Linked DNA regions of Homo sapiens: region 2 is linked to region 1. Evidence: fine-mapped expression QTL. A gene starts in region 1. The other region holds a variant in brackets. All regions are shown on one strand. Distances are between the middles of the regions.

Region 1 (2,908 bases):
CGCTGCCATTATGCTCTGTACATTCAGAAACAAATTACAGGCTACAAGTTTCCAAAGTTTAAAACAAATGTATCTCTCCCCCCTCAGAATGTCCACACAACAGAGCTGTCGCAGTAAAGAAACACAAAAACCTGGGCTCCGGGAGAAAATACTTAAGAGTACTAAAAGAGACATTGTATGCAAAGTCCTAGTGTCCTAGTGGGCAGCAATCCTCAGGAGTCACTGTATTTACATAAATATCTAGGAGTCTGTGCAAAGATCTTATTTTCACTTTTGGCAGAAATGTAGTCATTTCAAACAATACATCTTAGTCTGCCAGGATCTTCCAAGTGGTCCCAGGCCTACCTTGTCTGCTATCATTTTTAATAAAAGACGTACTTTTCGGCCTAGTATCAATCAGATCTCATGTTTTTAAATCACTTTATGGCTGTTACATTCAAAGCATTCTCCATTAATTTAAGGGAAGTTTTTGGAGGTGTCTGCCTGTAAGTCAACAAGTAATGCAATACTGGGCAATCCAGGGTGCATATTTTACTGTCAGCGTGCTCCCCACAGATGGGAAAGGCCTGATACCCACTAACTGAGCAAAGAACAGACTCTTCAGAGTGACTAGTGGTGCAAAAAAGAATCCTGGGTTCTCTAGCGTGAAAAAGTCAAGGTAAAAAACATGGTAACACAAGTAAGGGAACTGGGACGGACGCCTTTTTTAAAAATCAAAAGGTCATCTTTTATGCCGCAGAGCAAACTTATGACCTTATGAGGAGAAAAGAAAATCAAAATACTTGGGAGGTGGGGATGAACATCGGGTTAGTTTGCATTCTTGCTTTTATTTTAACAGCATCACACGTATTCCCCCCCGGAACACTGAAGAGCGCATAGGGCAGATAGGTAGATGGGGCTGTGTCAACACCTCAGTCACAGCCCACAGACCCTCTGTGCCTCAGTTTCCCTCATTATACAAAGCTCCTGGGAGAAAATGGGCCCAAACCGCCATTGCTGCTCCCTCAGGTGCAAACATCCCGTCTCCAACATAGCCCAGGGCTGGGGGGTCCTCTGCGCCCGGTGAACGAAACCCCAGGACAAGGGCCATGCATGCAACTCCGTGGCTAGAGAGCCCGTGGCGCGGGTAGGAACAGCTGGCTGGAGGGTCGAGTGTACCAAAAAGAACTCCGCAACCCGGGGCGACCACCAGCGAAGCAGGGGCGCCGGAGCCACGGGTCCTCGGGCGAGAACAGGGGACAGACGGGAAGGGGACAATGGGGGGAAGCGGCGCTGGGTGGCCTTGGCCACCCCCCACAGGGGACTGCTAGGCTGGCCGCTGGCTCGGACCAGACCCCCCTCCACCCCTTCCCCTCGGTCCCCCCACCCCGCTGCCAGCCACCCCCCCGTCCCACTTCTAGGCCGGGACCCCCGCCTCGGTTCTCACAGCACCCTCCACGCCCCCCACCCGACCCCCATGCCCGGCCCTCGCCCCGCAACCCCCACCCACGCTCGCCCCGCACACACCTCCCGCGCCGCGCCCCCGGGAGGAAAGTGGGGGAGGGACGGGACGCACCTGAGCGGGCGGAGCGGGGGGAGGGGGCGGCCGAGCCACGGGGGGAGGGGTCGAGCGCCGGCCCGCGCGCGGCACCTCCCACTTCCGGCGGCACGAGCGGAGGGGGCGAGGCTCCGGCCGCGAGAGGAGAGGCCGCGGTGGCGCCGCGCCGCCCCCGACGGCGCCCTCTGGCGGCGACAGCTGGCGCCGCCGGGGCACGGGGATGCTGCGGGAGACCCCTGAGATACAAGTGGACTCTCCCGGGGCGCGGGGAAGAAGGGAGAGCCGACTGCGAGAAGGAAGGCGACCTGGGTGGGCAGGATCCCCTCTGGGAAGATTACAGGGACAGTCGGGGCCATGGCGGTCAGAAGGAGAAGAGCAACGAGTGGCTTTTAAAGGTCGGAACCGAAATGCCCTTTACAGAGGACGCCATGAAGGAGAGCCTTCTGAAGAGGGACCATGTGGAAGATGCCCCGAGGACTCGGGGAGGCGGAGCCCGCGGGTTCAGCCCCCAGCGCCCGCACGGCCCCTGCCTGCGTAGGCCGCCCGCGGGAGCCGGACCCCGGGCGCCGGTTGCTGTGGCCCGCGGGGGTCGCCGGGCCGCAGGCGCCGCGCTGATTGGCTGCGCCGCGGGCGGAAGTGATGCTGCTGTCACTGCTCCTCCGGCTCCCGGGAAGCCGCGAGTTTCCGCAGGGAGGCGGCGGCAGCTGCGGCGGGGCCGGTGAGTTGGGAACTAGGTGTGGGGCTGGACCTGGGTGGTCAGGGGGCCCCAGAAGTGGGGGAAGCCGGCGTCTGAGGATGAGGGAGCTGCACAGAGGGTGCCTGAGGTCCTGGCGTGGGGGACCAAGGAGATGGGGCCCCAGGGCCCAGAATTCCTGGATAATGTGGGTGCTAATGAGGAGAGGGGCACATTGCACGGAGCGATCGAGGCCGACGGAGGGAGAATCGGGAAACTGACCCGGTACCCAAGCTGGCTTCTAGGAGCCGGGTGTGGAACAGCGAGGACAGTAGCTTGGGAGCAGGATCTTGGACTCCAGGCTGCCCATTCTCTTCTTCCTTGTCAATTAAGAGCTGTAAAGGGAGGCCTAGCCGTTGGGAGAGGTTGAGACCTGCTTTCAGAAGGCATTTAAGGTTCCTTTCCCAGAAGCCTGGGGGATAAAAATGCTGCTTTGCCACTAGTAGACAGAAGGAGCTCCTGCTTCTCTTTCTTCCTGACATCTGTGGTGGGATCTACTGAGTCTGAAGGAGTCTGCCTAGCGGGGCCACTGTCTGGCTAACAAGGGTTTTGTTTGTTAGTTTGTTTACTTAGTAGAGTATGCAGACTGGGGAAGACACCTAAATATCTTGGGAGAATTGAGGCTCCCGGGGGCAGGG
Region 2 (2,908 bases), 48 kb before region 1:
GCATCCGAGGAGCCAGAGAGGGACTGGGTTGAAACACCTGAAGCATGAAGTCTGTCTGCAGAGGAGAAGAGGTAGAGGACGAGAGAGAAAGGAAGAAAAAGAAAGTTTAGGAAACTGGAGAAGACATCAATGAACAACTCTTGCACTGAATAGGGATGGTCCCAATATCTTCATAAAAAGAACACGCAGAAGACTCTGCTGCTGCTACCAACACAGAAAGGTGAACTTCCCCCCAAAGCCACTCTCTTACCTCTGATGGGGGTGGAGGTAAAGTGGGAGTAGGGATTTGAGGAAGGCTGCTCAGCTTGGCTCCGTTCCTCACTAACTGGATATGACTATTAAATTGGTCCTAAAAAAAAAAAGGATTATTTTTACTGCTGAACTGACTCAGGCTCTCTAGAAAGACAGCACCATCCATTATCAGGAAAACAAAAGGAATAGTAGGATAGGCCCCAAATGGCAATGCAAAAGGCTACCTCCCAATTGCTGGAAGTGTTAAGCACAGACTAACACTGACTGAATGATGACTCATAGATACACTTACACGAACATTCTTTTTCATTATCCGAACTCCATTCAGTCTCGTCTCCCACTCCTGTTTGGAACGAACTGTCTCCAGTGTTGGGGGAGTTGACCTTTCAAGAAACCAACAGGAATTTACAGATTTAAAGAAAGCCCTGCTAGGAACAGTGACTCACGCCTGTAATCCCAGCACAAGAGGCCAAGGCGGGCAGATCACTTGAGCTCAGGAGTTCTAGACCAGCCTGGGCAATGTGGCTAAACCCTGTCTCTTAAAAAAATGCAAAATTAGCCAGGTGTGGTGGCTCACGCCTATAGTCCCAGCTACTTGGCAGGCTGAGGTAGGAGGATGGCTTGTGCTCAGGAGATGGAGGTTGCAGTGAGCCAAGATGGCACCACTGCACAACAGAGGGAGACCCTGTCATTAAAAAAAAAAAAAAAAAAAAAGCCCTATTCCTAATTCTCTGAGATAGCAAAAGCAAAATAGTAGCTGGCTAATTGCCGTTGAGAAGAGGTGGGAGCAGGTGCAGGAGAAGCCCAAGATTCGAATTCCTTTGCCTCACTTTAACTCCAGTATCTTTTAAGTAATTGAGAAAGAGAACCAACAACAGAGAGAGGGTTCTTGTCTGCCTGAAAATGCCACAAGGGTCCTCCAAGTTCCATGGCAGAAAGAAAATAAATGACTACATAGGAAATGAATCTCCAAAGATCATTGTTATGCTTTATAGGTTAACAGATGCTGGTTATTTTTTATTTTTTAGAGACAGGGTCTCACTGTCACCTAGGCTGGAGTGCAGTGATGCCATCAAAGCTCACTGCAGCCTCGGCCTCCTGGGCACAAGTGATCCTCCTGCCTCGACCTCCCAAAGTGCTGGGATTACAGGAGCATGCTATTACGTCTGGCTTTAACAGATAGTGTTTATCCAAATGGAAACAAAACATTAAAAAATGCAAAACTATAAAACTGTAGCAGGGAAGAGTTACAGTACAGAACTTTAGAATGTGAGAGGAAAAACCACTGAGCAATTGCTACTGCAGACAGAGATAGCCTTACAATTCCTGTGCAGATAGAATAAGTGCCAGACTAGCTGGCCTAGGAATGAAAAAACCTAAACAAACAAACAAACAAAC[T/AAACT]GCAAAACAATTAAAGCTCTAGAACGGAAAGGTACTTACTTGAGGTAAGTAAGGTGCAATTCTGCCTCTTTTTCTGCTTCTTCTAGTTTCAGTACCAGTAACTCTTTCCGGCTCTCTAGTGATAAGATCTAAGGAAGCCACACACATATAAATACTTTATTAATTTTACATACACAAAGGTACCTCTAGGTAGTGAAAACAAATGCTTACTGGCTCTCCTATTACAATGCCAAAAGTAGATACCATCTGGAAGCCTGAAACTAAGACTTTCAAGATATCAGCTCCTCTTCTCACCTCTGCCTTCCAGGCCCGTTCAGTCTCTTCCATAATGTTCCTATTTATTTCGCCATCCTGATTCTTGAGTCTATCCAGTTCCATTTCCCACACCTCTCTGTAAGATAAGAAACCAAGAACAAGACTAAGGAAGAAAGATAAGCTTGTTGAGAGATACCAGGGCAAAAGTACAACCCAAAATTGGTCAGCCAAGTATGTTACAGGAAGTCTTACTCTAAGTATTAACTATACTTATTTTTCTTTCTTCTTTATTCTTTGCTAATCAAAAGAGAGCTGGAGTATAAGTATCAAATATAGATACAGACAAATAATGTTTACAGTGGTCTGCAGTTGCATAATGGCCCTATATTTGAAAGTAAAAACGTTGTGACCGGGCGTGGTGGCTGACGCCTGTAATCCCAGCACTTTGGAAGTCCAAGATGGGCAGATCACTTGAAATCAGGAGTTTGAGACCAGTCTGGCCAGCGTGGTGAAACCCCATCTCTACTAAAAATACAAAAATTAGCTGGGCGTGATGGCGCACGCCTGTCGCCTAGTCCCAGCTACTCAGAAGGGTGAGGCAAGATAATTGCTTGAACCTGGGAGGCGCAGGTTGCAGTGAGCCGAGATTGCACCACTGCACTCCAGCCTAGGCTACAAAGCGAGACTCTGTCTCAAAAAAAAAAAAAAAAAAAAAAAAAAGTTTGTATCTCCACTTGCTAAAATAAAGTTACCTACAGCAGGAAAAAGACTGCATCTTAGAACAAAAGCCCTCCATTGAAGGCAGAACATTCTTCTACGTTCAAGAGGATTCAAAACCATTATGGCATTCTGCATTCTTATTTCCCAACATGTCTTTTAGTATGGGTCCTGAAGAATGAATGCAGGACCAAACACAGGGGTCCACTTTTTTGTTTGTTTGTTTTTTATAGACAGGGTCTTACTCTGTTGCCCAGACCAGAGTACAGTGCTATGACCTTGGTTC

Direction of the effects. Positions count from the first base shown, and alleles are read on the strand shown. Sizes are in standard deviations (SD) of each study's normalised expression.
As copies of AAACT replace T in region 2, the expression in regulatory T cells of the gene that starts at base 1,611 in region 1 goes down (large effect, 0.92 SD a copy in Schmiedel 2018).

Evidence for each region. PIP is the estimated chance that this variant, and not a neighbour inherited with it, causes the effect.
Region 2: its variant is fine-mapped to the expression of RNF214 in regulatory T cells (Schmiedel 2018, PIP 0.95).

The regions. Positions count from the first base shown.
Region 1 is chr11:117,231,374-117,234,281 of GRCh38, reverse strand. It overlaps RNF214 (ring finger protein 214), which reads right to left and starts at 1,611. Exons shown (of 15, transcript NM_207343.4): 1 at 1,556-1,611; 2 at 1-15. The coding sequence starts at 9. It overlaps PCSK7 (proprotein convertase subtilisin/kexin type 7), which reads left to right and starts at 2,209. Exons shown (of 17, transcript NM_004716.4): 1 at 2,209-2,255. RefSeq lists silencers at 1,472-1,811, 2,022-2,171 and an enhancer at 2,362-2,411.
Region 2 is chr11:117,279,041-117,281,948 of GRCh38, reverse strand. It overlaps RNF214 (ring finger protein 214), which reads right to left. Exons shown (of 15, transcript NM_207343.4): 7 at 1,945-2,041; 8 at 1,690-1,778; 9 at 545-635; 10 at 251-349; 11 at 1-55. Among named protein-coding and RNA genes, the nearest start is that of BACE1, 36 kb to the left of the region's middle. The variant T/AAACT (reference allele first, on the strand shown) is at 1,651.